Regions from separate parts of the Homo sapiens genome. Here region 1 is linked to region 2. The links come from fine-mapping of genetic effects on plasma protein levels. A gene starts in region 2. The other region holds a variant in brackets. All regions are shown on one strand. Distances are between the middles of the regions.

Region 1 (15,649 bases), 67 kb before region 2:
TGAAATCCCCCTAAAAATTCCTTAAAATATTTTCCCTCAAAAAAAATAAAACTCAGCTCTGAAAGTTTACATGTGTTGACTGCCCCAGACAACAGGAAGTGAAACGACTTAGTTGGAAGGAGGCAGGGTCAGGGTGGAGGTGCTGCTGAGTGTGGGAAGTCTGGAGTGCGGAGAAGGCGCCCAGAGAGACTTCCTGGTGAGCTCTTCAGAGGAAGGAGCAAGTGCAAAGGCGATTGCAGAAGCCAAGGGATCATCTTTTCCTCAACATGCACAGCCAGAAGAAGAATCTCAGAAGCTGCATGTGCTCTAAAGAAGAACTGCTGCTCTCTGGGTCTCTTGGGCTCCACACTGCTTCCTAAGTTTCTGAACTTCTGGAACTTTTCCTTCTCAGTGAATAACTCAAAGCCTTAATTCTAATGCAGCAGGTTTAAAGCACTTGCATGTGATTTGATAGGAAAGTCTGGGGTGGATAGTGGTCATGAACAACAATATCCCAAAGTATTTGTTATTTCTGCCTGGCAATTATAAAGGATGAAAGTAGCATGGTCATGGCAGAAATAGATGGTGGGTTAAGGTTAGATCAAGTTAGATCTCAGGTGTTGGCAGTTTCCTAAGCCTTTGAGGTTCCCATAGCTAACATCTTCAGAACCAAAGGGGCAATCTTCTACTGGTTACTGACTAAGAAGAGAAAGCGGAATCTCTTAGAGGGTATTTGGTAATGTAGGGTTAACCATGGTGTCACGGTTATCGCAATGATTGGGGAGTGTTGCAAACATCTAGTGAAGAGGGCAGGGATATTAAATGTCCCACAGTGATGGAACACTTCTGTGCTGTGAAGAACCACTCCATCTCAAACGTCAGCAGCACCCCTGGGCAGGTCCCTGCCCTCAGTGGTGCTTGACTCTGGACTAGGTCCAGAGATGTGCACAGCCAATCTGAGCTTTATTTTCAGGAGACTTTGCTGAAAAAGGACTGATGACGTCACCAGCATCATCCTCAACAAGTGTCTGTGACAGCCTGTGACGTGGAAGGCAGGGTGCTGCCTAATGAAAGGCCGCGAAATGCTTTGAGAATCAAATAGACTCTAATACAACTCCCAGTCTGTTACAATATCCAGGATGCTTGCACTTAACTTAGAAATGTAATGTATCCTCTTGCCTCTTTTTTCTCTCTTATTCTATGTAAACAAGGGTTTGCTCTATGAAGCCAGAAAAAACAAAATTCTTACATACAAGTTTCCATTAGCAGTTCTATATCAGTATCTATCTTCTCATACGATATGCTTTCAAGACTACAGACTTCTCAAAATAATCAAAAGACTGTAGTGTACACTAAAGGTTGACAAGGCTCTGATCTAAAATAATATTTTGGTCTTGTCATTTGGAGGGCGTTTTGTGATGTTTTGACCCTAAATTTCACATATACTAAAGTACACAGAAAAAATATTTAATTCTTAGACATTCTGAAATTATTTTAAAAACTCAAACTATTTATTATGGTCAAACATGCCAACGGTAACTTGCCCTAAACACATTTTCTTCAACTGCAAAAGAAATGAATAAATTATGGAAGAACAGCAGATTTTATAATCTTAAGAGTCTGCATTTTCTGAATATTGATGTATACGTATATACCTAAAGACACCCTATTCTATGTTTCAGAGTGAATTCTTATGCTGTGAGTTCTACCTTGAACAGCACTAGTGCTAAGTAGGATAAGAGCTATGCAGATCTCTCTGCTAACTCCTCCTGCCCAACCCCAAATGTCTGTTCCATGGCTCAGTTCCATTCCTCTGCATTTCTTTCCTTGCATATGTTACAGGAAAGGGGTCCCGATCCAGATCCCAAGAGAGGGTTCTTGGATCTCACGCAAGAAAGAATTCAGGGTGAGTCCGCAGTGCAAAATGAAAGCAAGTTTATTACAAAAGCAAAGGAATAAAAGAATGGCTACTCCATAGACAGAGCAGCCCCAAGGGCTGCTGGTTGCCCATTTTTATGGTTATTTTTTGATGATATGCTAAACAAGGGGTGGATTATTTATGCCTCCCCTTTTTAGACCATATAGGGTACCTTCCTGATGTTGCCATGGCATTTGCAAACTGTCATGGCGCTGGTGGGAGTGCAGCAGTGAGGACGACCAGAGGTCACTCTCGTCGCCATTTTGGTTTCGGTGGGTTTTGGCCGGCTCGTTTACTGTGACCTGTTTTAACAGCAAGGTCTTTATGACTTCTATTTTGCGCTGACCTCCTATCTCATCCTGTGACTTAGAATGCCTTAACCATCTGAGAATGCAGCCCAGTAGTTTTCAGCCTCATTTTACCCAGCTCTTATTTAAGATGGAGTTGCTCTGGTTCACATGACTCTAACACATAGACTCCTGAAACTTGACCTTTCACCTCTCACTTTTATCTAGGTTGCCTAAAACTGCATTTTCATTTCTGACCTCTCACCAAATGCCTAGAGTCACATTTAATATTGCCTAATGTGCATTGCACATGCAGGTCCTGTCTCCCTTCCAACAGTGTCCCCAAACACCACCTCTCCCCTCTTCTTCCTAATTCTTTCAGTTTCTCTGGCTCTCTGACACCCTTTCAAATGAGAGAAAAATTGAGAAGGCAGGGAAAGTGAAAGTGGATTTCAACTTTAGCTCATAATGCCTTGTGTTATCAGCAACCCACTCCACCACCCTATGACAAAATAAGAAACATCTCTGGGACTGGCTGCTTCTTGTATCCCCAGAATCCACAACTCATAAATGGCCAAGAAGGTTGGGAAAGATGAAACTATAAACTAAAAATAAAATCCTAAGTTCCCCAACTGACGGAATGGACTCCCTCTTGTCCAAGGAGGCCTCAGAAAATGTTAAAAACTGAGCCTTGACAGGAGATCAGATACGCCTCATTATGCCCCCTCCCTTTTATGGGTTAGAAAGAACTGAGCAGCATTAATGTTAAAATTGAGCTCATAAGACTGACAGAACAGACTCTTTGTGGCAATAAAATACTAAATTATAAACAGGACCTAGAGCCATGCCAGACAAGGGTTGAGTCACTCACCTCTACACCTAAAGAATAAACTGTGTTCTCTGCCACAAGGTTTACCTTTTTCTCTAGCAGTTAAACAAGCACTGGCCTCGAGATAAGCAATAGTAAAACAATTTGCAGCCACTGCCATGCACTAACTGACCCCCTGTTCCACAAGCCATCACTACAGCTTTGATTGGACAAGAGACTGATTTCAGTAACTTTCTCCTGATAAGAAGACCACCAACCATTGACTGACTCTGGCCAGTTTACAGAGGATGCACATTTGAGTGCCTTTGCATCCTAAAAAGACCTTTGACATTAAAGGCCTAATTGTAACACATTTAAATGTTAAGTCTTCACCCCTAGGTGAACACGGGTTGTATGTTACATGCATGCTTGTTCAATATGCATGCGTCAGGACCGCCTTCATGAATATTCATGGCTCCTCTTATAACCTGTTGAATATGTGTACTTGGCCAACCCATTCAGCTTAAATTCCTGTCCAAACCTTCCTCCTTCAAAGTGCCTGTCTTCGGTCTTTGCCAGAGGCTACACTTCCCAGCCTGCAGATGGCCACCTTGCAGGCTGTAACCGTTTATAAGAAACAAAGTGTCCTTTCCAAATTTATATATTTGTGAAGAAAAACAGTGATCTCAACCAAATTTCCCTTGCCAGTAGAGAGCAATAATTTGAATAATATAAAACAAAGTGACAGAAATTCAACTCTAACCAGCTTAAACAAAGGCAAATTTTCTTAGTTTAATGAGCTAAGAAGTCCAGGAGAGACTGGACTTTGAGCACTGCTGTATTTGGGTGCCAGACAATGTCATCGGGGACCTGTCTCCTCCCTCTCTTTAGCTCAGCTCTCCTCTGGATTTACCTCCATTCTCAGACCAGCTCTCCCCAAGTTAGGCAAAGACAGCGACCAGCACTTCCTGCCAGCTTTGCACCACCACCAGGAGGAAAGCTCCAATGTCTTATTGTTTCTGCAAAAGGTCGGGAGCTGATGCTCATTTCCTTTGTTGGTCAACATGGCCATGCTCACCCCTAAACCAATCAGAGATCAGTGCCCTCATTGGTCGGGTTTGGGTCTAGACTCCTAGAGCCAGTCACTGGGGTCAGCCCTAGGCAAATCACATGGACTGAGGATGGAGGAAGAGTGATCCTCTAAGGGCAGTGATCTGTTGGTGCCATAAGAAAAAGAAGTGGATGCTGGGCTGGTAAAAATATGGTGAGCAGGTGCTCACCATAATCCCTAATAATGATATCTATAGGATTGTGGTAAGAAATAAATAATATGGATTCAAGAAGTTTGAAAACCATAATGCAATTTTATCTAAAAGGTGTTTTATTATTCAGCAGATAATTCTACTTTTCCACAGAAAAACTTAGATAGATTGGGCCAGGCATGGTGGCTCACACCTGTAATCCCAGCACTTTGGGAGGCTGAGGTGGGCAGATCACGAGGTCAGGAATTTGAGACCAGCCTGGCCAACATGGTGAAACTTTGTCTCTACTAAAAATACAAAAAAAAAAAAAAAAATTTAGCCCGACGTGGTGGCACGCGCTTGTAGTCCCAGCTGTTGCAGAGGCTGAGGCAGGAAAATCGCTTGAACCTGGGAGGTGGAGATTGCAGTGAGCCAAGATCGCACCACTGCACTCCAGCCTGGGCAACAGAGTGAGACTCCCTCTCAAAAAAAAAAAAACAAAAAAACAAAAACACAACTTAGATAGATTGCGTTGATGCTATAACCAAAAGCAATAGCCATTGCCTGTGCTGCTGGTTGGTCCAGCAGACTCCAGTGGCAGAGGAGGGCATCCTGGTTTTGTGGTAGGAAGAACCTTGGCTTTGAAGTCCTGCAAATGTGGCTTCTGGTCCCGATTGCATTTTCTATTGGCTGTGTGAACTTGCACATGCCACTTAGCCGTACTTCCTTCAACTGAAATGAGAGTAAATCACACTTTCTTGACACCTCATTTCTAGGTGGATTAAGAAGTCATGTGCAAAGCACCCATGATGCCTGGCAGAGCAGGTGAATGGTTAACAAATATTAGAGATATTAGCCCCTTTTCACTCCCGTGCCTCCAGGACTCATTTTATTACTTTATTACAATTGAAATTTCAATAACTTAAGGCATCTTAATACTGAAATGTGGAACCTGGATAATCCTATTTTTTAAAATAAAGAAACAGAAGTAAATCGAGTTGATCATTGCTGAGTTGCCATTTAAATATTTCCTAAATATACTAATTGGTGGGGGAGGGAGATCCGAATGTGGAACTGGGGCCTTTGCCCTAAATATCCATTAACCCAGGCCATGAACTATGGCTTCAAATGTTGTTGGTATCTCTGACATAGACACACCAACTCTAACAGCACACAGACCAGACCTAGAGAGCAGGTGTGGGGTTATAAAATTATCTTCCCAAGGTGCAAAAACTGCAGTTTTTAAGACAAACCTGAGTCAGCAATGGGAGTGAAATGTGAGCAAGGAGACCGTCAGCGATAAGGAAGGGGTGACTAAACGAACCGGCCTTCCTGGGGGGATTTGGTTTTTGGTGTGTATTTTGGGCAAGGTTAGATGGGAGCAAGGACAGGAGTCAACAAGACTGTAAGATGAGAGCTCGCCTCCTGAAGGAACTTGGGAGATGCCCCGTGCGCACCCCCACACCCCTTTCTGCTAATCGCTTCCTTCCACCCTCAAATCCCTTTTTGCTCCAAGAATCATCCTCTGGGAGGAACATTTACTCAGTTTACTCATTTCTGCCACCTCACCCGCCACATTTATAAATGAGCCAGGGCTCAGGAAAGTATGCGTTCCCTCCCCTGCCTCCCCAGAGTTATAGAACCACAAAGAGCCACCTTAGGAGGCCGTACGATGCTCCCAGCATTTCCCAGGAAGTTTCAGGCCCCTCTGTTTATAAAAGCAGTAACTAAAGGAATGCCAAGTGCTCTTCAGCTTTGTGTCAGTATAAACAAGTTTCACACTGGATGGATCGCCATCAGCCTGGAGTTTCCACAACCAGCACGAAGTCACCACCTTCTGTTTTCTGCTCTCAGCTCAACCTGGCCACCCACCTCCCACTGTGTCTCAGAGCTGTACTTTCCTGTGGGCAACTTTCTGAGCCTGCAGAGGAAAAGGCATCAGCCATACTGCAGGGTTTATTCATTAAGATTTTCAGACAATTTCCTACTATCTCAATCAATTCAGCGGATAGCTATTAAGAAACCAGAGGGAGAGTTCACTCCAGATACACTGAGATGCAGTCTCCACATGAAGAAACTTAGATCAGGCCTGCAGCTCCAGGACACAACTGCTTATGCGCCTCTGTGCAGCCACACCTGGCTGCCCAGCTCATCAGCTCTAACTCTGTGTTCTGAGGAAATCTCCATTCACCGAGTCCTGCACCTTAACTCAGTTCGATGATGGGATGAGAAGGACACAGTGTGGGGCCTTGATAAGAGAGGAGGCCCCTCAGGCAAGCTTGGGCCACAGTGGCCGAAAGAGCCTTGCAGTTACCAGCAGAACACTGCAACTCACTGACCCTCACTTCTTGCTTTCCTGTCTGCAGTCGAAGCCCTGATCCCTGCTTCATCATTCACACACAGACCACGTGTCTCGAAGTTCCAAAGTTAGCAATGGCCGGTCCTTTCCAGACCCATTGGTTTACACAGCCTACACCCCAAATTCTACCTGTCTTTGTTCTCTGTTTCCTGTAAGACTGTGTGTGGGCCTCACCTCCTTGGCTAACTAGACTGGAAGCTCCTGAAAGGCAGGGGCCTCTCACCCGGGTTCTTTTTTCCTTCTCAGCACTCAGCAATCTGCTTGGAGCAAGGCTTATAGATCACTTTGTTGATTGTTACCAAAACATGGACTTGGCCAGTTCTGGGTAAATCTTTAACTTTCAAGGAGCCTGTGAGCAGACGAATGTCCGAAGGTGCT[A/T]AAGTTGTATGACTCAACAGATACAAACACAGATGGGGTTGGGTCATTCCTTATTCCACAGCTGGTGCTCTGTCACCTGGGTCCATATCCTCCCGATAAACAACCTGGCTGAAAAGTAAGAGCTGAAGGGCTAAGAGGGAACTGCAGGCCCAAGGCCCAAGGAGGAGACGGGGGAAAACAAGAAGGGAGGGATTAAGAAAGAGATCCACAAAGAGGAAGGGGGAGAGGCAGGCAGAGAGAGATTAGAGCAAAAGAGACAGACAGGAACACAGAGAAAGAGGGAGAGAAACAATGGAGAGCAAGAAAGGTCAGAGGTGCCGAGGGAGGGTGGTAGAAAGCTCAGGCGGTCTGGGATCAGGTCACCAAGCCATGATTTGTCCTAATAATTGAGCACCTGCTACATGCCAGGAGTTGTGCTAGGCCCTGGACATGCAGTGGTCAAGAAGGCAAGCCCATTCCTCAAGGAGTTTATATTCTAATGGAGGACTGATGATAAATAATATGCAATAAGATGTGTTGAAGAAAAATAAAGCAGAGGCCAAGGATGTTGGGAGTCAACGTCCTGTAATCCTAGCACTTTGGGAGGACAAGACGGGTGAATTACTTGGGCCCAAGAGTTCAAGATCATCCTGGGCAACATAGCGAGACCCTGTCTCTATGAAAATTAAAAAAAAAAAAAGTATTAGCCAGGCATGGTGGTACGTGCCTGTAGTTCCAGCTACTCAGGAGGCTGAGGTGGGAGGATCACCTGAGCCTGAGGCTTCAATGAGTCATGATCACAAAACTGCACTCCAGCCTGGCTGATAGAGCAAGACCTTGTCTCGAAACAAAACAAAGCAAAATAAAGCAAGGTGGAAGTCTACTCTCAAGTAGAAGCAGAATTTCACTTAGAAGATTTGACTCCTCATCCAGTGCTCATGTGAAAGACCAAATGCACCAGACCATCAAGGAGATGGTTTTATTCAGGGTATTGCAATAGGGAGAATGTTCATGAAAGGAGAATGTCTCAAAGAAAAGGAAGGGGCCCCGGGGCTTTACACAGGCAGGTGAACAAAGGAATCTCACAGGAATCTCTAGAAAGGATGGAGGCAGGTCTTACTTGAAATATTGGAGGGCAGGATGGTCCTTTGAGATTTTGCCATGGAACACAAAAGGATGGGGGTGTTTTGGAAAACAAAAAGGTAGGGGATTTCTTAAGCTCAGGTAAAGTTTAACCTGTCCCTAATATCCTGCCACCTCCATTTTTCTAAACACTAAGTATGGTCACTTTGTTGTGCTCATTTGCTTCTTACCAGCACCGTAACATGGAGTTCCTTCAGGCAGCACACAAGCCCTTTGTGATCTGATTTCTATCTGTTCCCAATTAGCTGAGGTAGGGAAGCACACAGAGAACACACGAGAGGATCTTGTAGGCCAGAACACCCAGTGTCTCTGCACACCTCCCATTGGCCAGAATGCAGTCTCGTAGCATCCTCAACTGAAAGGGAGGCTGGGAGGTATCACCTAGCTATTTGACCAGGAAGGAGGAAATGGATGTTAGTGGTCACAGCTAGCCAGCTTTGTTGCATGTGCTGTTCCCTCTCTCTTTAGAAATGTCCCTCTGCTTCCTTCCTCGCCTTTCTCTGATTAGAGGGCGCCGGTGCACCCTTCAGGTCATCTAAGTGTGTCTTCCTTTAGGAAATCTTTCTTGACCACCAGTGTGGTCAGTACTCCTTGAACGCCTCTGTAGCACCCAGAATATTTTATAGCACTAACCATATGACTCACATTGTTCACTTTCTCATCAGTCCCCTACATGACACCTTGAGGTCCCTGACATTAGAAGCTGTGCCTTTTGTCTTTCTGTACTCAATGCCTAGTGCTGTTTGGCATTGGATTGTAGGTGATCAATAATGTCTGTCAAATAAATGAATGGCTCCTGGATGGCTTCTAAATGGCCAGGATCTCCAGATGTGCTCCAGAAGGATAATTTCAACCAAGAAGAAGACACAGAAGTTTCCACAGTCACCCTAATAGCTTTCGTTTGCCATCTGGGCCTGGGTCAGTTATCACACTGGGACCCCAGGAAGAAGCTTAGTGTTGTGGATGTTAGAGATGCAAAGAGAGCTCAGGTGCCTTATTTTGAGCTCAGCCCACTAACCGTCTTTACAGCTTGATTAGCCTTTAGAGAGAAAACAGAACTTTGGCCTCAACTTCCTGGCAGGTAAGGAAAGAGATTAGCAGATGCCCATTGTGTGAACCCGGCTAAGACTACAGCCAACTCGGAAGCAAGGCGATGGGCTGGAATGGCTCCTATCCACATGGTATTTTGGTAAGTTAAGAAAAGTTACATAGTGACACACTCTGGTACAGCTTCTGTGATCCCCACATTGCTCTCAGCCAGTTTGAGTCAGGACCAAAGACAGTAAAATCTTATTAACACAGGAGAGAAAGACTGAGTCATTTCCGTAATGACTGCCTCACAGCAGGAATCATTACCAAGCCTGAGAGCGAGAAAATGGCGCTCTCTTTTTATGTGGAATTGTTGGCTGGAGTCTCGCCTTTATGACTTTTGAAGAAGGAATTATATGGTTCATACATCCAAGAACAAATAAAACAGGGTTGCCGGCCGGGCTCGGTGGCTCACGCCTGTAATCCCAGCACTTTGGGAGGCCGAGGCGGGTGGATCACGAGGTCAGGAGATCAAGACCATCCTGGCTAACATGAGAAACCCTGTCTCTGCTAAAAATACAAAAAAAATTAGCCGAGTGTGGTGGTGGGCACCTGTAGTCCCAGCTACTCGGGAGGCTGAGGCAGGAGAATAGCATGAACCCAGGAGGCGGAGCTTGCAGTGAGCCGAGATCGCGCCACTGCACTCCAGCCTGGGTGACAGAGCGAGACTCTGTCTCAGGAAAAAAAAAAAAAAAAAAGCAGGGACGCTACCTCATGGTGTGTGAGTAGTCAGACAGCAATGATACCAGGACCTGGCATCAGTGGGGCAGAGCAGAGCGGGGTGGTGTTGAGGAGGGCCTGGGAGGAGTTGGGTATCTGCAGCTCTTGGGCCTGCCGAGGTCCCCTTGCCACCTCCAGTATTTGTGTTTGAGGTTCATTAGGGCCAAGCGGGTCAGGAAAAGGAATAGAACATAAATTTCATAGCTTTACATGGTTGACTTGGGCTCTGTAAGTGGTAAACCCAATGAAATAAAGGTGAATCATGCCTTTTGAATCCTATGTCTTTATTTAGGTTCCGGTGCTTCTCTTCCTGGTTGGGCTGGTTCTTATCCAGGCCTTTTGAGGGCCATGGAGGGTGTCTGAGGGCACAACAACAGGCCTCCTTTAGGGACACTATGGCCTCAGGACCTTAATTCCCAAATGCTTCTGTTCTCTTTAGCTCTCCTCACAAGAGGGGAAAACTGCTGCTATCTCTCTTCTGTGGAGTTGTAGGTATGTGCCTGCATTAAGCAGAAACATTGAGCTGCTCAGATGATGATGACGATGATAGCTAACGGTCATTGAAACTTACAATGTACTAGGCACTAAGTTAGGGTATTTACATGCAAGATCCTGTTTAAATCTCATAATCACTCTATAAAATATGTACTACATCCACTCATTGTTTTAGGTGGAAAACATCCTGGTGGGGAAGATTCTGAGAAATTCAGCTCCAAAATAGAATCATACTAAGAAACCCACCTAGAAGTCCTGGCAAGGATGTGCTTCTGAATTCCATCATCATTAGTGGTTGTGCCCTGGGAACCAGCACAAGCTCTTTCTTCAAATTTCATTTCAAATTTTATCACTTTTCAACACCCCCACTGTAACGACTTTAATCCACTTACCATCATCTCTCACCTCAGCTACGAATAATAACAGATATTTTTGAGATATTCTTGGGTACCAGGCATTGTTCTACACACTTTACATGTGTGTTATGCCTTAATCTTCATGGTAACACAACAAGGTAGGACTCATGATGGAGACCGCTGCATTGCACAGCTCTGAGTGGCACTGTGCACGCTGCACTCGTCGGACTCCAGGGGGAGATTCTGGAGTTGTACAATGTGGTAACCCTATTACATCTCCATTTTATAGATGAGAGAAGTGAAGTGCAGGTGAGTTATTTAACTTGTCCATGCTCATGCTGCTCATCAATGGCAGACATGCTTCAAACCCTGGCAGTCTGGCCCTGGAGGCTTCCCCACTGTGTTATACTGCCTCTCCGTCCCTATACTAGCCCCCTGGTTGGGGCCTCTGCTCTTGCTCTTCTGTATTCTCCAGTGGCTAAAGTGATCCTTTTAAAGCACATAAACAATATAAGGACTCAAAACTCTCCAATAGCTTCCCATCAATCCTGGAATACAATCTGAACAAACTTCATAGCATGCCCCATGAGGCCCTATGTGATCTTCTCCTCACCCCATGCCTCCAGGCTCCTGTGTGACAACCTTCTCCCAGCTCACTATATTTTTGTTTTCCTGAGACCATACCCTTCTGATCTTTTTGTTTTCCTGAGACCATGCCAAGCTTGTGCTCACCTCAGGGCCTTTGCACATGCTGTTTCCTGTGCCCCTGCCTCATCCTCTGCCTGGATCCTCTCATGGGCCACCTCCTCACCTCATTCAGGACTCTGCCCAAATGCCACTTTCTCCAGAGAGGCTTTCTTGATGTATCCATGTAAAATAGCCTCCAACTCACTTCCACCATTCTCCATCCCTTTAGCCTTCTTTGTCTTTCTTTGTAGCGCTTAATAGTACTCAAGGTTATACTATGGATTGATTAATGTATTGGTGTATTAACCCTTGGATGTAAACAGGGACTTTTTCATCCTCAACACTGAGTCTTCAGGGCTGGAAGACAGACTGGTACAAGTTGGAGTTCAATAAATACTGGTTGAGTAAGTGAATAAGCAAAGCTCCTGGAGAGCAGGGCCACCTCTGCCCCAGTCCAGGGGACACAGTCAGTTCTCAGTAAGCACCAAGAAAGCAGGTGAGGATGGGAAAAGGAGAAGGAAGACAGGGAGAAGAAGAAAAGCACTATTCAGATTTCAACTTGACAATACTTATTTAGTGTTTCTTTGGTGCTAAACAAAGTGACACATATCTCATTTAATTCTCACATCCTGTGAAGTAGGTAATTTTAGCAAGAAAGGAGAAATATAAGGATGGTAGGCAGAAATGTGTTTGCATTAATTCCTTGATGCAGTCTTTACTTACGACAGAAAAAAGGCTATCATTAAAGATATGGACTTTGAATTGCTTATCTTTATGCAACTAAGCCACAAGAATTTTGTGTTTATTTTTTATGATTCAAAAGCATTAATCTTACAAGCTGTATAATTTGTATTTACTTTTGCTATATCTTCAAGATAAAGGATTCATTCTACCATCCACTGCTCCCCCAATCCAGCTTTTAAAAATCCCCCATGTAGTGATTCAGTTCATGGAACACCTGTGAGTTCCCTCTACAAATTGCTGCGTCAGTTTTTCTGCGGAAGGAGTCTTTCTAAGGATGTGTCCAAACTAAAATACCATTTTATAATAGCATTAAAACAGCATTTTAATCACTTGATCATTTTAATCACACAGCTTGCAAGACTCAAAATCTTCATAGTGTCCTCATCTGAAATTTTGGGGGCCCCTAAAACAATTTTTTTTGAAGTTGTCTCTCCTTATTAAAAGAAAGTACTCTTCAGTGGGTTAAGCTCCTCCTCATCTAACAAGGCATAAGCTGGTTGTTCTGTGGTTAAACCTGAGTTTACACAATAAGGATGTGGCTACTACCACAGGGTTGTGCAAAACAGGGGAATCTTACGACGTCTCGGCTTTGGGCAGGGTCCCAGTTTATGTGACAAACCCCAATCCAACGGCTCCCTATACCACTGGGCCAGCTGGCCAACCTGACTGGTCCCTCCAGTCCTCCCTCTGCGTACCAGCAGGACCTCATAAATTCAGGTTGGGGTTAGAATTAGGATTAGCGGTCACCCTCTTGTAGCTCAGACCCACTCGGTGCTGAAGCAGCTCCACGGGCTGCTTTCCAGAAGTGTCGAGGCTCTTAAAGGGCTAGTAATACTCAAATAATAACATGCGCCTAGCCAGAGACATTTAACCCCTGAAAAGTGTCAAGGATAATGGAAATGATAAACCCATGTCACTTCTGAGAGATATTTTGGGGGCTCATTTCTTTCTTTGTGTCCTGATGAAAGGAAAGGCAATTTGCATATTCTGCTGAACCCTGATTCTCAACCACCACAGTGTTCTGGACACTAAGTTGCATAATAGGAAATTTAGGGGAGACGCTTTCCCCTTAGAGCCTTCCTGCTGCATCTGCCACAGTTATCCCTTCAATAAACAGCCCCTCTCCATGTTATTTAAAACTCAGAAGTGCTCTCAACAACTCACTCCTGATCAATTATATGCCTAAGGTGAAGTTGGGCATGAGCAGGTATTTTGTAGTGAAATGAACTACCATTTGTATAACACATTGTATTTATGATACAGCTTCATTCTCAGCCCTGGGCTGGGTATTATTATGACCATTTTTGTTAGCGGGCAAACCCAGGTATAGAGGGGCTGATAACTTGTCCAAGATCATACAAGGAGAAGAGAAAGAAATGGAACTTGAATTCTGATCTTTGGACTTCACATTACAAGCAAGCAAGGCTAATCAAAGCAAGCCTAAACAAACCCAACTGTCACTCGGATGGAGATCCTCTAATGCCAACACCAGACAGAAATACCACATTCTTGCCCAGGAAAATATACTGGGGGTACTTATGGCTAACAGAATTATAGGATGATGACAAATGGGTCCGCTGAAGACAGGGGTAAACACCCAACAAGTTTTGGTAGCCTCAGAGGGCAGTGCATCAGAATGATCTGATAACTGGCTTTCATACAAATGCTCTTAAATCAGCAGGGCAAATGGGATCTGATACTGCATTCTTGTTTCACAAGGCAGTGGGTTAGCTGGAGATTTGGGAAACTCTTACATCAAAAAATGATTAACACAAACATTAAGACCCTCAAGAGATATGATTTAAATACTGGAATATTTTATTTCTCTGAAATGCCTCATCCCCTGATGATCCCTGACAAATCAGATGCTACTATATAGATCTGCTGATCTCTCAGATCTAAGTTTCAGCACAATGTTCAAAGTTGCAGCTTTAAACAATGACAAAAAAATTACAGTTAAACTTCTCACAACCCTATATTGTTTCAGTCTAGGAAATGAAAATAAAGTCTGCTTTTACCCAGTGAGCCTCTAAAATTCCCAAATCCTTGGTAACAGATGAAGTAACTGACATAACTTGCTGCTTTCATGTGCATAAAACATCATTTTATTTTTTTCAGTCTCCCATGCACCAGGTTTTCAGTGAGTACCAAAAAACTAAACATATTTTCCAGAGTAAAATGTAGCATATTCCCAATTCTTAAGGCTCCTCGGAGGATTAAATGCTATTTAATGGACAGGAGAACTTGTTCTGATAAGTTTCTCAGACACTGCAACAGTGTAGGTGGAAGTGGCAGAGAACATGAGGGATGCAGTTGTCCACCACCCCGGGTCACCCTCTCAATCTCCTCCTTTCCTCCAGGAGAGGAGGCTGGCTTTCCAGGTGCCCTGGGCTTGGGCAGAGGAAGCTCTTGTCCCTCCCTGCTCAGTGCCCTGCTCAGCTACCATTCAGGTGAGGCTGCCCTGCTCCTGGGGAGTCAGGCTAAGTCTAACCCACAGAGAGAGAAGCTGTATCTGGACAAGTCTCTAGAGCCTCCTCCCCAGTGACCTTGGCTAGTGACAACCTATTCAGATGGGAACAGAACTATGCTCATTCCACACTTTGAGCTTTTCCCATGGAAATTTGTCATCATCTAACTATAGAATGTCTGTAAATGGAAAACTGAAAATGCCGATAATAAGCCCTCTCTATTGTGACTTGTGTTGGTGTTTGGCCCTCTTAGAGAATGTCTGCTGCTTTATATTAAAAAAAATATGTATATATATATATATATATATATGACAGAAAGGGAAGCCTATTATGTTACCCCCTTTCAAAATTTTTTGATGACTTTCTCCTTTCTACATAATAAAGCCTGGGGTTCTTATTCTAGCATGTACAGCCTGCTGCGAGCTACTTCAAACTACTTTCCCAGTTTTTTCTCTCATCTCATTCCACCCCATCTCCATGCCCATGTCCATTCTAAAAACATGCACATACACACTACACACACACACCACACAGCCTCCATAAACTCCAATGGTTCTACGTTAATTACTTTTTCTCAGGCCCTTTCTGCTCTTCTTTTCTTTCTTTGGGGTGCCCTTTGACCATTTCCCCAAGTTACTCTAATCACTATTCCAACTGCTCCTCCAAGCCAAGCTCAAATGCCTTCTGTTTCCTGAATGTTCCCCCAACCCCCTAGGCTGATTGCCCACCTCACTTTACCTTTTCCGGGGCCTTGCCGTAGAGTTATCTGTGTACACATCTATGATCCTGAAAGTAGGACCCTGTCCACTCAAGTCTGTATTGCCTCGGGCCTATCTGGGGTCTTGCATAAAGTAGATGCTCACTAAATATTAGCTGAACCACAAATCCACCACTCTCAAAGAGAAACTGAGGTCAGGGACCTGGAAAGAAATAAAAATGGCTCTACTTTTTACTCCTCCTGATGATTTCAACACTGACTTTGAAATTTTTCCTCTCCG
Region 2 (15,649 bases):
CAGCAGCCAGCGACATCAAGACAAGACCCTTCACCACCAAAAAAAGTACAACTCTCTGACGGCTCAGATGATTCTTAGTATTTTTTTTAGCAATAAAGTATTGTTAAATTAAGGTCTGTACTTTTTTAGACATAATGCTATTATATACTTTATAGACTATGATGTAGTATAAACGTAACTTTTATATGTGCTAGGAAACCAAAAAGTTTGTGTGACTTGCTTTCTTGTGATACTTGGTTTATTGCCATGGTCTGGAATTGAATCTTCATTATCTCCAGAGTCTGCCTGTAACTGGTTTTCTGCTCACTCTTAGAGGCCATGACCTCCTCTTTCTTACTAAAACTCTCCTCCTCCTCTCTGCTGTTCCTCTGTGGTCCAGCTTGTTATGGTCTGATGTTGGTTTCCTCCTAAAATTCATACATTGGAACCTAATGCCCAATGTGATCGTATTAAGAGGTGGGGCCTTTTAGGCAGTGATGCATGAGGCCCTGCTCTCATGCATGGGATTTGTGCCCTTATAAAGGAAGTTAAATGGAGCTGCCTTGTCCCTTCTGCCATGGAGATACAACAACAAGTTTCCGGCTACGAATCAAAGAGTGAGCCCTTGCCAGACACCGAATCTTCCAGTGCCTTCATCTTGGACTTCCCAGCTGCCAGAACTGTTATTTCTGTTACTTATAAATTACCCAGTCTAAGGTATTTTGTTAGAGCAGACTAAATGGACTAAGCCACAGCTTAAATAATACTTTCCTCTAGGGAACCTTCTCTCATCACCCCAGTGAGAACCAAACTCTCTCTGTAGAGGTCCTGAACATCTTCTGTATCTTTAAGCAAAGCTTTCTGAATACGGAGGACCTACTGTGTGCCAGGCACTGTTGCTAGCACTGTAGCTACCTGTAAAGATAGAGCAGTCTCTTCCAGCACAGGGCTTTCAATCTACTAGCAAGAGATGTGACACTATATCCCACATCATTCGTACCACTTTCCCCTGTGGAAGCTTAAGTATTTGTCTCGTCTTCCTGACTAGTTACGAGATATTTTACCAAAGGGACTCACAGTTCCTGGTATACTGTCCTGTGCATAGTAATCCCTTAATAAGTATTGATTAACCCATATAAGGCAGGATCTTGGTTAACAAATCCATTGTGATTGGAGATGAAAAGTAAACACTATTCTTAAAATAAGGTGCAGGTCTAAGATCAATCGCTCTAAATTGGTCATTTTAATAGCTGTCTCCATAGTATATGTCCTGTATCTTAGTCCATTCAGGCTGCCATAACAAAAAATACCATAGTCCAACTGGCTTAAACAAACATAAATTTATTTCTCACAGTTCTGGAGGCTGGGAAGTCCAAGATCAAGTTTCGAGCAGGTTTGGTTCAGCTTCCCGAACCGTCTTCTTGCTATGTCCTCACATGGCAGAAAGGAAGATGAAGCTCTTTTATAAGGGCACTAACCCCATTCACAAAGGCTCCATCCTCGACCAGATCATCTACTTATGGCTCCGCCTCCTAACACCATCACATTGGAGGTGAGGATTTCAACATACGGATTTGCTGGGTGGGTGTGAGGGGGCACAAACAATGACGCTAAAGCAACCTGTTATTCCCCTTATGGCAAGGAATAGAAGTATTTGATTTAGAACTGTGAGAATAGAAGTAGTTGATTTAGAACTGTGAGATGCTAAAATGTTGTAACATAAAGGGTAATGATGGTTTAGGATGACAATTACAACCAGTCAAACAAACATGTTTCCAGTGTGAAAAATAACTTTGCTTACTAAGGAATTACCTCTGTCTTGAGAGTTCTGCTTCAATGTGGAGTTGGTATAATAGGATGGAGCATCACCATCAAAGGCAGCAAGGGATTGGAAGGGTTACAGGCTCAAAATTTGGAGCATCTGTTAACTAGGCTATAAAATGTCAACAAACAAACATAAAAATAACAATGAAATATCTTGCACACATGCTTTTAAGCTGATTATTTTACTTGTTTTTTTCCTTACGTGAGGAATCTCCTCCTACTTGGTTATCTTTTCTGCTAGACTTGCCTTTTTATAAAGCTGTCTTTCTTGTTGAGCTTCATATATTTTTTCCATATTCAAAACTTTGAGAGTTCATCAATACGTTCAAACTGATAGAGAATGTATATTTTAAACCTGTAAGTCATTTTCTGAGTTAAAGATACCTATTTGATGAACTGATCATGACACACCTAAATCTTTTTGGGGGGAGGACAGAATGAAATTTGTAAATAAACAACACTGTTAAGATTGTTTTATATCCAATTCAAATGCTGACAGAAAATCATTCAAACCATAAAATCTGCCGGGCATGGTGGTTCACACCTGTAATCCCGGCACTTTGGGGGGCAGAGGCAGGCGGATCACCTGAGGTCGGGAGTTTGAGACCAGCCTGACCAACATAGATAAACCTGTATGTACTAAAAATACAAAATTAGCTGGGCATGGTGGCACATGCCTGTAATCCCAGTTACTCAGGAGGCTGAGGCAGGAGAATTGCTTTGAACCTGGGAGGTGGAGTTGCAGTGAGCCGAGATTGTGCCATTGCACTCCAGCCTGGGGCAACAAGAGCGAAACTCTGTCTCAAAAAACAAACAAACAAACATAAAATCTGGACATAAGTAGGAATGATGATATGTTTAACAGGAAAGGGACTTCTTTGTTTTACTCTGTACATCCAGAGTCTAGCAAAGAACCCAGTATCTGGTGGACATTCAAGCATTTGTTGAATGAATGAATTTCTGTTCATCAAATTTAGTACATATGTCAGGTATAAAGAGTTACAGAAATGAGGAATTAAGAGATGCTTAAGTAAATGATACCATATACAAAATTTTAAATCACATAAATATTATATTAATAAGAACATAGGTTAAGGGTTTTCATTTTAAATGACTTTTTGTTACTAAAATAATACCCACAATTCATATTTATTATTTATCTATTTTGTCACCATTGTATGTAGATAATAAAATAATATTTACTGTTCATCAAAATGAAAGTTGAAAGGTAGTTTGATAAGCTTTACGTTTATAAAAATAGATGTCTGCTGAAAATACCAATCCCAGTCTAAGACTTGAATTGGAAGGTTTTTCTCTAAAGTTACATTTTTCAGAATACTGGTGCTATGTGATAACTCATTTAGCAAAGCTTCTTGTAAGCTGTTCTAGACAGTTGATAGAAGTATTTTGAATGACCAGGATAATAGATTTTATCATACTGACTTTCAACTGTTTAATTTTGGTCTAAATGAACTGTTGGACTAGTATATTGCTATTTTCACAAAATGCATAATCATGACTGCCAATTTTTCCATGACTAACTATACCCAGCCAGATGTTTCTTAGGTTCTGCTGAGTCACTTTTTTCCTTTTCCTCCAGAACTCTGTGTTCCTACTAACTCCTAATTCCCTCTGGCCTTTTCTCATACTTTGCCTTTTACCTGAATTTTGGGTAATGGTTTCATTGCTCTTTTTACCATTTCATATGCATAAAATAAGTTTCTCTGAATTATTCTCAATTTTACTTGCTATCATGTATCTTAACCTATCTCTTTCCTGGGAAATAAACATTTTGAGGAATTTGTTTTAAAAAGTTATTCAGCCTCTGTATGCAAGGAAAACTATCAACAACCTCATCGCATGATGAAGTATATTCTGAATCATCGTAGAATCCAGTCTTTTAAAAAAATGCTAGCTAGTTTCCAAACTTCTGTATCTGGTTTCTGCTTCTCAGCTATCTCTCCTCCTGGTGAGATTTTCTGGTGGTGCAGAGATAGCTAATCACTGGTTAGACTGCTAGAACTTGCGGTCGAGTGGTGCCTTTCCAGTCATGATGGATTTGTATTTTCTTACCAATCTCAGCATCATGAAACACTCACTGCCTGGCCCCTAGAAAGAGTTTTCAGTGACAGATTTCATCTCTTGAACACCAGTGAAATATTTGGTTGCACTCATAGTTTTATAAAGTATTCATTGACTCAAAAGGTATTAAGTGCCTATTATGTGCTGATAATTGTGGAAAGGGTTGAGAGAGGAAAAAAACAGACAAAAAACCCAATCCAACAGGAAAGATTAACAGGTAAACACACAAGTGAGATTAAGTGAAGTTCTCAATGAAAATGAGTCGGTAAAATTGGCAGCAAGTACTATAAAAGTACAGTGGAAGGGCTGAAACATCTCCGCAGTTATTTTCAGACTTCTCATCAACCACATTTCATCACTGGTTATGCAAAGGGAATTCAAACTCTTCTACGTGTCTCCTTGTCTGTCTATTTCAAGGACTAACCATCAGGATATTTCTGCCTAAGAACAATGAGTTCCCCAAACTGCAAAGTATTTTCTATACTTTGTGTGCAGTTTTTGTGCAGTTTTGCACTTTTCTGCACTTTGTGTACATGCAGAACATTTTTGAGTGCTTATGGATGGATTAATTAATCATTCATTTGATGGATTTACCACCCAGTCTTACTTTCCTTCATTGGGAGTAGGAGAAAGCCTGGTGATGGAAGGAAAGCCCCCGGGGTCAGAAGACCAGATCTGCACTGTGTGGTTAGGCAAGCCAGTTTACTCAGATCAGCTGGCCACAGGGTTCTCATCCATAAAAGAATGTCTGTGAGGTTCTCCCATCCTCTGACATCCTAAAATCCAATGAGAAAGGGACTGGTCAAGCCAGAGAGATTATTGTTATAGTTTAGTAACTTTTTGAACTTCTCAGAGCCTCCAAGATAGATCATGGAGGAGGGAACTGTTAACTGCTAAGCTTGACTTTACTGACAGGAGTAAAAAAAATTGTGTTAAGGTTAGGGAATAATTTTAACAGTCAATTTGTTCTTGTGAACAAATTTCAACAGTGAAATTTTAGATATGTACTTTTTAATGGTGCCAAGCAGCAGTTATTATAGATCAACTGCTGTTTGGCACCATTAAAAAGTACACTTCGCACCGTCAAAAAGTAGATCTGGCCACAATTAGATCAGTCAGGGAAAAACACTTCGCAATGAAATATTATTTACCACGTTTTCTTCCTCCCTCTTCTTGAAAATAGTAATGATTTTAGCATTTTTAAATCTTGAAGAATGTCATTCCGTACTGACTAAAAAGCCTGTGCAAACACCCAACATCTTCTCTTTCCTGTCTATTTTAATGGATATACAAAATAAATATTCATCTAATTTATCAATATTTAAGGCACATTGTGTATCACAATCCAATGGTAAACATTTTTCTTATCAAATGGCTGATCTTGACATTGTTTAAAGCCCTATATGATTTCAGAAAAGTCAGTGACTCCAAGTGGAATTGCAACAATTTCTTGGGTCTTGTAACAAACCTGAAGTGTAACTATTTCTCTTCAGCTACCTTCAATCCCAGAGAGCAAAGAATCACATCCCAGGTGGAGCTGAAGATCTCTTAGGGAAAATGACTCAGGCTAGAGCCTGCATAAAAAGAGGATTGCATGGCTTAGTTTTGCAAACATAAATTTTGTGGGTTTCAGAGCTGGCAGAGAGCTCAAAGAGGAAATCATCAAGGGCAACTTTCTGCTTCGAGGAAGGAAAGTCTACAAGGGCTAAACCTGGATGTGCTATTTCAGTTCAGGCAAAGGAGGAAAATTAAAATTTTGCACAGTTTTATTCTGTTAAAACAAGTGGTTCAGTAAGCTAAACGAGATATGTATATAGTATGCATTAAAATGCAAGACTGACTTCCCTGGGAAAACGTGGGAAAGAAGGAGAGAGGAAACAAACAATTCTTACACTAAGAATTCTCCAGTCGTGTCTTGCAGGCAATATAGAGTAATAATAATAAAAATGACAGGAGATACTTTGACAGGATGGCTTAAAATGCCACTCAATAGATGAAGAGTTGTTCTCATGCTTGGCAAGTTTACAGCAAAGCCCAGAAGGAGAAGCCAGAAAATAATTTAGAAAAACCAAAGCTTAAAACTAGTGGCACACAACTCTGGTTACATTTTTCATTTTCATTTTTGGTTCCTCTGCATTTCGGTGGAACTCAGTCCCACAGATGTCTTCTTCAATGTGGGAACCATCCTTTCTGGAACCACAGAGCTGCAGATGTCACGCTGGAATTCTCCCAGAGGCAAACTGCCAGATGTGAGGCTGCTCTTCCTCAGTCACTATCTCTGGTCGTACCGGGCGATGCCTGAGCCAACTGACCCTCAGACCTGTGAGCCGAGCCGGTCACACCGTGGCTGACACCGGCATTCCCACCGCCTTTCTCCTGTGCGACCCGCTAAGGGCCCCGCGAGGTGGGCAGGCCAGGTATTCTTGACCTTCGTGGGGTAGAAGAAGCCACCGTGGCTGGGAGAGGGCCCTGCTCACAGCCACACGTTTACTTCGCTGCAGGTCCCGAGCTTCTGCCCCAGGTGGGCAAAGCATCCGGGAAATGCCCTCCGCTGCCCGAGGGGAGCCCAGAGCCCGTGCTTTCTATTAAATGTTGTAAATGCCGCCTCTCCCACTTTATCACCAAATGGAAGGGAAGAATTCTTCCAAGGCGCCCTCCCTTTCCTGCCATAGACCTGCAACCCACCTAAGCTGCACGTCGGAGTCGCGGGCCTGGGTGAATCCGGGGGCCTTGGGGGACCCGGGCAACTAGACCCGCCTGCGTCCTCCAGGGCAGCTCCGCGCTCGGTGGCGCGGTTGAATCACTGGGGTGAGTCATCCCTTGCAGGGTCCCGGAGTTTCCTACCGGGAGGAGGCGGGGCAGGGGTGTGGACTCGCCGGGGGCCGCCCACCGCGACGGCAAGTGACCCGGGCCGGGGGCGGGGAGTCGGGAGGAGCGGCGGGGGCGGGCGCCGGGGGCGGGCAGAGGCGCGGGAGAGCGCGCCGCCGGCCCTTTATAGCGCGCGGGGCACCGGCTCCCCAAGACTGCGAGCTCCCCGCACCCCCTCGCACTCCCTCTGGCCGGCCCAGGGCGCCTTCAGCCCAACCTCCCCAGCCCCACGGGCGCCACGGAACCCGCTCGATCTCGCCGCCAACTGGTAGACATGGAGACCCCTGCCTGGCCCCGGGTCCCGCGCCCCGAGACCGCCGTCGCTCGGACGCTCCTGCTCGGCTGGGTCTTCGCCCAGGTGGCCGGCGCTTCAGGTGAGTGGCACCAGCCCCTGGAAGCCCGGGGCGCGCCACACGCAGGAGGGAGGCGACAGTCCTGGCTGGCAGCGGGCTCGCCCTGGTTCCCCGGGGCGCCCATGTTGTCCCCCGCGCCTACGGGACTCGGCTGCGCTCACCCAGCCCGGCTTGAATGAACCGAGTCCGTCGGGCGCCGGCGGGAGTTGCAGGGAGGGAGTTGGCGCCCCAGACCCCGCTGCCCCTTCCGCTGGAGAGTTTTGCTCGGGGTGTCCGAGTAATTGGACTGTTGTTGCATAAGCGGACTTTTAGCTCCCGCTTTAACTCTGGGGAAAGGGCTTCCCAGTGAGTTGCGACCTTCAATATGATAGGACTTGTGCCTGCGTCTGCACGTGTTGGCGTGCAGAGGTTTGGATATTATCTTTCATTATATGTGCATCTTCCCTTAATAAAGAGCGTCCCTGGTCTTTTCCTGGCCATCTTTGTTCTAGGTTTGGGTAGAGGCAATCCAAAAGGGCTGGATTGCTGCTTAGATTGGAGCAGGTACAACGTTGTGCATGCCCCGTATTTCTACGAGGTGTTCGGGACGGCGTAGAGACTGGGACCTGCTGCGTACTGGCAAAGCAGACCTTCATAAGAAATAATCCTGATCCAATACAGCCGACGGTGTGACAGGCCACACGTCCCCGTGGGTCTCTGTGGAAGTTTCAGTGTAGCGACATTTCAGATAAAAGTGGAAAAAGTGAAGTTTGGCTTTTTTCATTTGTATGCAGTCCTAACTCTTGTCACACGTGTGGGATTTATCTTTTTCCATAACTTACTGAAAACCCTTCCTGGCGGGCTGAACCTGACTCTTCCTGAGCTGAGTCCTGGACTGGCACACTGATGGCTCTGGGCTCTTCCCGGTCAAGTTATAACAAGGCTTTGCCCATGAATAATTTCAAACGAAAATGTCAAGATCCTTGCCGGTGTCCTGGGATTACAAGGTGAATCTTGTCATGAAGAAATTCTAGGTCTAGAAAAAATTTGAAGATTCTTTTTCTCTTGATAATTCACTAATGAAGCTTTTGTGGTTGAAAAATAAAAAGTGAGGTTTATGGTGATGTCAGGTGGGAAGGTGTTTTATACATCAATACATTCGAGTGCTCTGAAGTGCATGTAATAATAGCTGTTTCTCTGTTGTTTAAAGGCACTACAAATACTGTGGCAGCATATAATTTAACTTGGAAATCAACTAATTTCAAGACAATTTTGGAGTGGGAACCCAAACCCGTCAATCAAGTCTACACTGTTCAAATAAGGTAAGCTGGGTACAGAAAAAGAAAATTAAGGTCTTTGATGTTTCTACTGTCCTATGCTGAACAAGAATGTCTTTAAAGCTGATTACTGGATGAAATTATTTAACAGATGACGAAGAAGAAGGGATTCTTGGCAATTCGCTGGCCGGTGTCATACTCTATTAGGCCTGCAACATTTCCAGACCTTAAACTGATAGAACATTTTAATTGTTTTAATTGTTTTTGGAAATGATGGGAGAGTTCCTAAGTGGAGTATAAACTGTGGAGAGATGAACCATCTTGAGTAGGCACTGAAGTGTGCTTTGGGTCATGATAGATTAATTAATCTCATCTAAACATTGATGTCTTTTTCTGTTGCTGTCTAGACTGTGAACAATGTCTAACACCTTAGGGAAGAGGTGGGGAGGAATCCCAATGTATACATTGCCCTTAAGCAGTGTTTGATTCATTCATCTTTGGACTCCATGAATCGAAATCTGGTAGAATACATGATCTTAGTGGAGGAGGCCAAATGCGTGACTCACTGAGCCTGGCAGAGCAGAAATACTCTGCTGTCTGCACCCTCTGGGTCTGGTGTGGCTCTGCTTCTTGGTGCCTCAACTCTGACTGGCAGCTGTCCCCAGGAGGCGATAATTCAGCATGTTCAATCTAAAGGTTATGACTTCCTTGATGGTTTTCACCATATTCTTGGCAAGTTTTTGGTTTTTGAAATGTTCTAGGAGGCTTGGTAGAGATCTTATGAAATAGAGAATAGCTGCTGTGGAAATTATTTTAATGCTAATTACATAAAAGTACAAAAGTAGCACTAGCTAAAACAAAAGGTATTTTGCTGTTCTGTTTTGTTTTAGCTTGTGCCAGGCCTTTTACAGCATTAGGAATGCAACTTCTAGATAACGATGCATCTTTTAAGTGAATGTTCTTGTTTTTCAAAATGAACTTCATGACAGTAGTTGCCAAACCAGCAAGGAGAACTTGCATGCATACGTGCATGCATGTGTGGATATGTATGGGGGTGGGGGGAGAGAAAGATGAAGGAATTTCATAACATGAAATAATGATTACAGTTCTGGTCAAACTTGTCAATTCAGATTTCACCAATTGAGAATTAGTAAGTAATTTCTCTGATACAGGCCTGAAGTTTACCTTAGTAAACACTTTACTTCCATATGGTAAAAATTAGATTTTGGGAGGAATGCTTACCTCCTAAATATATTCAATCTAATATTTGAGGGACACATGGGAATATATTTATGATTCATCTGCTTTTTAAACATAAGCCTTTGTTAACTGTAAGTTCTTGAACTTTATAAGGCTGCTGTTATTTAAATGAGCACAGCTCCTGATCTGCAAACAGCAGAGCGCAGGGCTACAGCTTGGGGGATGCCAGCCGACTCAGGGTGGTCCTATGGACTGAACAATCTCTTGCTGCTGTACTGGAGGGCCTGGGAGCTTTTCCATCAGCCTCGGCCTGAGGTGTGCACTCTTCTCCTGCCCACCCCAGGAATAAATGAGATTCCTGGTTAAAAAGGACCAGAGCAGTCATTTTACAGTTGAGGAAACTGTTGCTCTGAGAAGTGAGGGATTTATTCATGACTACACTGATGGTGAGTGCCCATGTCAGGTCTGGAACCAAAGTCTACCCAGTATCCACACACCACCATCCCTCAGGTGGCTCTGCCACAGTCTGATGGGAGGCTCCAAAGCGGGAGGAAGAAGGAAAGTCTTGCCCACTGCATCTCCTCAGTTGGCCTTCCTCTCTGCCTGTTTTCCCTCCCTACAGTTAGCATCTTAAGCAGCTGCCCCTCTTCCCTCCCGACTGCTCTCACTACTGCAGCCTGGCTCCAGCCGCAGGACACTACTGCTGTGCAGAAGCCCCTACTTGGAACTCCAACTGCATTTTTCACCTTTGCTAACAGTTTTCAGTGGTGGTTGGGAAATGTTATTGGCTTAAGCCTTAGCACAAACCGTCACCGGTGATATTCATTCCATGGAAATGTTCTGAATTCTAAAGCTGAATTTACAAAGCTTCTGGAAAACAACCTGCAACCAAATTAGTGACTGAATTTTTTAGTTAACTCAAAATTCCAAATCAGAGGGTTTTGCAATGCCTGGAGGAACCTTGGAGGCTTTTAAAGTGTTAATGCTATTAATGGCATTCAGAGGGATTTTCTACAGAATTGTCCCTTCATTACCTGTTTATACAGTTTTACTACTTACCAGGGTACTGTATAAATCCTTGTGCTAAATTTTGCTATAGAGTATGTGGTCCCTGCTGTGAGCTGGGAGGAACCAAATACTGTATCTCTATGTTACATAGAAAGCCCTAGGAGACTTTCTCCTGTTATCTGAACAACTATTTGCTGTACTGATAAAAAGGAAACAGCATAGTCTCATTCACTTTTTGAAATGGAAATGATAAAATAAAACACATTTTGGTCATTCGGGAACAAAATACCCTCTCTACTTTTATCACATAAAATTAAATAAATAGAAACCAAAATATTTCAGTATCAATCTTAGTTTGTGCACTTTAGGATAAAGAATGTGTTTACCCAAATCCTTTTGGCCTGGTTACTTAGTTCAGATTTTGAAAGAAAATATATTTGTGGCTTTTATGTGTGAATTTAGACAATGGAATCCATGTGGTGCCTCGTTTTCCCTGAGATTATGTATTAATTCAACCTGTAAATGCAAACCATCTAATAGTCAGCGAGACCCTATAGCCCTGCTGCTTAATGGGGGCACACAAGGGCATGCAGCCCTCGTACCAGGCAGACTGTGTTCATATTAACAGCATCGTGGAGAAACTCATGCTGGGGGACAGGGGAGGGAGATGTAAATGCTCAGCAGGGAGATCTGGAGATTCCTGGAGCAGGTGGAGTTGGGACCTGGCCTTGAACGATGGGTCTGGCTCTGGCAGTCAGTAATGCCAAAGGGAAGAGCAGCATAACTGTCACTTTCCATGGGACAGAAGTGTGTGAATCAAGTTGCAGTGACGCTTCACCTATTTATTATTTTGGTCATTTAGAAGAATTTCATTGTCAGTAGAAGTCCTTTAAATCATTTCCCCTTCAGTGACGTCTCACAAAAGAAAGATCTGTCTTTAGCTTTTTAGTCTCAGACTTTATTAGACAGATACTACCTGTACTCTTATTCTGTAATCTTTGTTGGGATGGATTCACATCTTGCAAAGGAAGGGAGGCATGTAGTATAATGGGGCAAACAGACCCAGCTCTGCCACTCGTTAGATATGTGACCTTCTGCAAGTTGCTTAGTGCCTGTGAGCTTCAGTGTCCTCATGGATAAGAAAGATCCAACACCTTCTTGGAAGGATTATATCAAATGAAGTAACATGAGTAAAGGGTCCAGCAGAATACCTGGCATATAGTGGAGTCAATGAATGATTAATAATATTATTAATAGTGGTCATGAGAGAATATATGTATAACATGTTATTATGTAGACTCACTATATAGACTCTATTCTACATAGAATATAGAACATTATATAACAAACAACTATAATAAGTAGACTATAGTAAACAACCTCACTTTGTCTCAGTTGCCTCATCTTGATGGAAAACTGCTCTTTCTCTCCTGTTACCCTGACAGAGAGCGTCTACATTCTAAAAGAAAGATATTTAACAAAATGGTTGAGTACAGATCCAAGAGTCAAATAGCTGTCTGGTTCAAAGTCCAGCTGTGTGATTTTGAGCTAGTCACCCAATCTCACTTTGTCTCAGTAGCCTTATTTGTAAAAACAAGGCAAATTACAGAGCCATCCCCTGGGTTGCTATGAGGACTCAAACATGCATCCCAAGTGCTCGGTGTTGCTAGGTATGATGGCTCACACCTGTACATTCAGCACTTTGGGAGGCCGAAGCAGAAGGATCAGCCTGGGCAACATAGCAGGACCCCATCTCTACAAAACAATGTTTAAAAAAAAGCAAAGTGCTCAGCACAGTGACTGCATCATTAGGATTGATTGTAGGGCTCCTGATGTTAGCACAGAACACCACAGCCAGGAAGCAGTCTATCTTGTTGGGTGCAAATTGTAACATTCCATTTATGTTTCTTCCTTCTTTTCTTTCTTTAGCACTAAGTCAGGAGATTGGAAAAGCAAATGCTTTTACACAACAGACACAGAGTGTGACCTCACCGACGAGATTGTGAAGGATGTGAAGCAGACGTACTTGGCACGGGTCTTCTCCTACCCGGCAGGGAATGTGGAGAGCACCGGTTCTGCTGGGGAGCCTCTGTATGAGAACTCCCCAGAGTTCACACCTTACCTGGAGAGTAAGTGGCTTGGGCTGTAATACCGTTCATTCTTGTTAGAAACGTCTGAACATTCTCGTGATCTTGTGCCTTTAGGGGCTACAAAATTAAAAATATTTATTCTTTTTTTCTCAGAAACTGGTATGTATCACAGCCCTCTTCACACATTCCAGATGTGGTAGGAGGTTCACAGAATGTGAACTTTGGAGCTGATGACAGTGTCATCAAGTAACTTTCTCCCCCAGTCTGTCCCCAGACCCTGTTACTGTCCTCAGTAACCGGCTGAATGTGTGTTGGGAGAGGGCGGGCCAGGGAAGCGGGTAGGGATAGGAAATCCACCAAGGCCGGGGTTTTAGCTTTTCCCTATATATATATCATGTATCCTGATTTTTCTGTCCCGTTATCACACTAAAAATCCCAGTTGAGGATTTTTCCCAAACGGTCATAAATCAATGAGGAAAGTCCATGGTTTCCCTCTGAGCCCATAATTAGCCTAATTATGCTGACCTTTTCTAATCAGTTGGCCATGATTTGAGTTCCGTGATGTGCCAGCACCTGCCCAGCCATCTGCCTGTCACCCTCGTTCTGGTTTTGGAAAGGTGGAATACTTTCCTCCTCAGCCTTTGCCCCTGTAAGCTGGCCCTAGGAGCCAGTAAAAGAATGAAGAGAATTCCTGTCAAGTAGGAGATTTATTCTTTTGCCGCAACTGTGGCTCTGAGCTAGGCAATTTAGATAAATGCATGTAGCACATTGAGTAGAGTGAAATTAGCTTCTCTTGTAAGGCCAGCTGGTTAGAATGAAGGTGTTGTGTGAGTGTTAGGCCCAGCGAGAGAGAACAGTTTCTCAAGGTAGGAATGGTGAAAAGAAGGGGTGGACGGACAACCAACCAACCATCCTCCTCTGGTATCTACTTTGAGGGTTGAAATAGGGGGCCTGACCCCAGGTGAATGTGGCTGCCTTCCCAGAGCCCCCATTTGCAAGACCCTCCAGACCCCCAGGTGCTTCTGCTTGTGTCTTTTGTGGCACCAGGCAAGAATGTAGCAGCGTCAGCAGCCCCTCTGGTGACTGTGGCATGGTTGACATTCATTTCCCCCCTAATTAATGGCATCCTCATGATTCTCTTTTATATTAATAGTTCTTGAGTTTTTTTGTAAGCTACTTCAAATCCTTTGTTGGTGCAAGATAGAAGATATTTTATGTGTTTGTTTTGCATGTGCACACACATATTTGGCCTGTGAATTGATGTTTGTTTTCCTGTCATTTAACCAAAGCACATGAGATAATTGAGCCATTGCAGAGACCCCGTGGTTAAATCCGGCTTCTCGAGGTACCAAGGACATTTCCTGGGCTTTCTCACAGCCCTACATATTTTTGAACCTAAAATATCGTAGTTTATGCTACCACCCTGTTCAGTATAGTAGCCACTAGCCACATGTGGCTGTTGACCACTTGAAATATGGCTAATGCTCTAAGTATAAAGTACACACTGGAATTTAAGAAGTGTAGAATATCTCAAAACTTTTTTATATTGATTACACATTAAAATGATTATATTCCAGATATATGCAGTTGACTCAAGCAATGCATGGCTGAGAGGCACCGACTCCCTGTGCAGTTGAAAATCCGAGTATAACTTGACTCCCCAAAAACTTAACTACTAATAGCCTACCTATCGGTTGACTGTTGACTGCAGCCTTACCAATAAGATAAACAGTCAATTAACACACATTTTTCATGTTGCGTGTATTATATACTGTATTCTTACAATAAAGTAAGCTAGAGGAAAGAAAATGTTATTAAGAAAATTATAAGGAAAAGAGGCTGGGCATGGTGGCTCGTGCCTGTAATCTCAGAACTTTGGGATGCTAAGGCGGGTGGATCACTTGAGGTCAGGAGTTCAAGACCAGCCTGGCCAACATGGTGAAACCCCATCTCTACTAAAAATACAAAAATTAGCCAGGCGTGGTTGTGGGTGCCTGTAATCCCAGCTACTTGGGAGGCTGAGGCAGGAGAATCACTTCAACCCAGGTGGAGGAGGTTGCAGTGAACTGAGATTGCGCCACTGCACTCCGGCCTGGGTGACAGAGCGAGACTCTGTCTAAAAAAGAAAGGGAAAGAAAGAAAAAAAAGAAAAGAAAAGAAAAGAAAGAAGGAAGGAAGAGAAAGAATTATAAGGAAGAGAAAATATATTTACTATTGATAAAGTGGAAGTGGATCATCATAAAGGTGTTCATCCTCGTCATCTTCATGTTGAGTAGGCTGAGGAGGAGGAGGAGGAGGAAGAGCAGGGGCCACGGCAGGAGAAAAGATGGAGGAAGTAGGAGGCGGCACACTTGGTGTAACTTTTATTTAAAAAAATTTGCATACAAGTGGATCCACAGAGTTCAAACCCATGTTGTTCAGGGGTCAACTGTCTTTGGTTAAATAAAATATATTATTAAAATTAATTTCACCTGTTCCTTTTTACTTTTTCTAATGTGACTACTAGAAAACTTAAAATGACATCTGAGGCTCCATTGTCTTCCCCTTGGGCCAGCACTACCACAGAATGTCTTAGGATTCAGCTCCAGGCCGCCACGCCTGCTTCTTTCAGGGAGCTGGTTCTATGCACATGTTTTATATGAGAGATAATTAAGTTGTCAATTGTGATAACAAAACAGGATTTGACTTTGTACAGAATTCTTTGGTTCCAACCAAGCTCATTTCCTTTGTTTCAGCAAACCTCGGACAGCCAACAATTCAGAGTTTTGAACAGGTGGGAACAAAAGTGAATGTGACCGTAGAAGATGAACGGACTTTAGTCAGAAGGAACAACACTTTCCTAAGCCTCCGGGATGTTTTTGGCAAGGACTTAATTTATACACTTTATTATTGGAAATCTTCAAGTTCAGGAAAGGTGAGCATTTTTTAATTTGTTTTTATGACCTGTTTTAAATTGTGAATACTTGGGTTTTACAACCCATTTCTTCCC

Direction of the effects. Alleles are on the strand shown, and positions count from the first base shown. The strength of an association depends on the size of the effect and on how common the allele is.
In carriers of allele A in region 1, the plasma level of the protein whose gene starts at base 6,905 in region 2 tends to be lower than with T alone (moderate association).

What was found. PIP is the posterior inclusion probability: the model's chance that the variant is causal. The UK Biobank Pharma Proteomics Project read protein levels with antibody pairs (Olink). The fine-mapping took linkage between variants from a reference panel, not from the people measured, so its PIPs are less certain.
Region 1: its variant is fine-mapped to the plasma level of the F3 protein (UK Biobank, PIP above 0.99).

What each region holds. Positions count from the first base shown.
Region 1 is chr1:94,599,699-94,615,347 of GRCh38, reverse strand. The region is part of intron 1 of LOC105378861 (a long non-coding RNA gene); the gene reads right to left. Among named protein-coding and RNA genes, the nearest start is that of MIR12133, 64 kb to the right of the region's middle. RefSeq lists enhancers at 5,837-6,337, 6,338-6,838, 8,754-9,953. The variant A/T (reference allele first, on the strand shown) is at 6,971.
Region 2 is chr1:94,533,015-94,548,663 of GRCh38, reverse strand. F3 (coagulation factor III, tissue factor) reads left to right here and starts at 6,905. Exons shown (of 6, transcript NM_001993.5): 1 at 6,905-7,127; 2 at 8,296-8,407; 3 at 12,500-12,699; 4 at 15,396-15,574. The coding sequence starts at 7,028. It overlaps MIR12133 (microRNA 12133), which reads right to left and starts at 4,962; the gene lies at 4,885-4,962. It overlaps LOC124904223 (a long non-coding RNA gene), which reads right to left and starts at 6,690. Exons shown (of 2, transcript XR_007066234.1): 1 at 1,792-6,690. RefSeq lists a silencer at 6,706-6,985.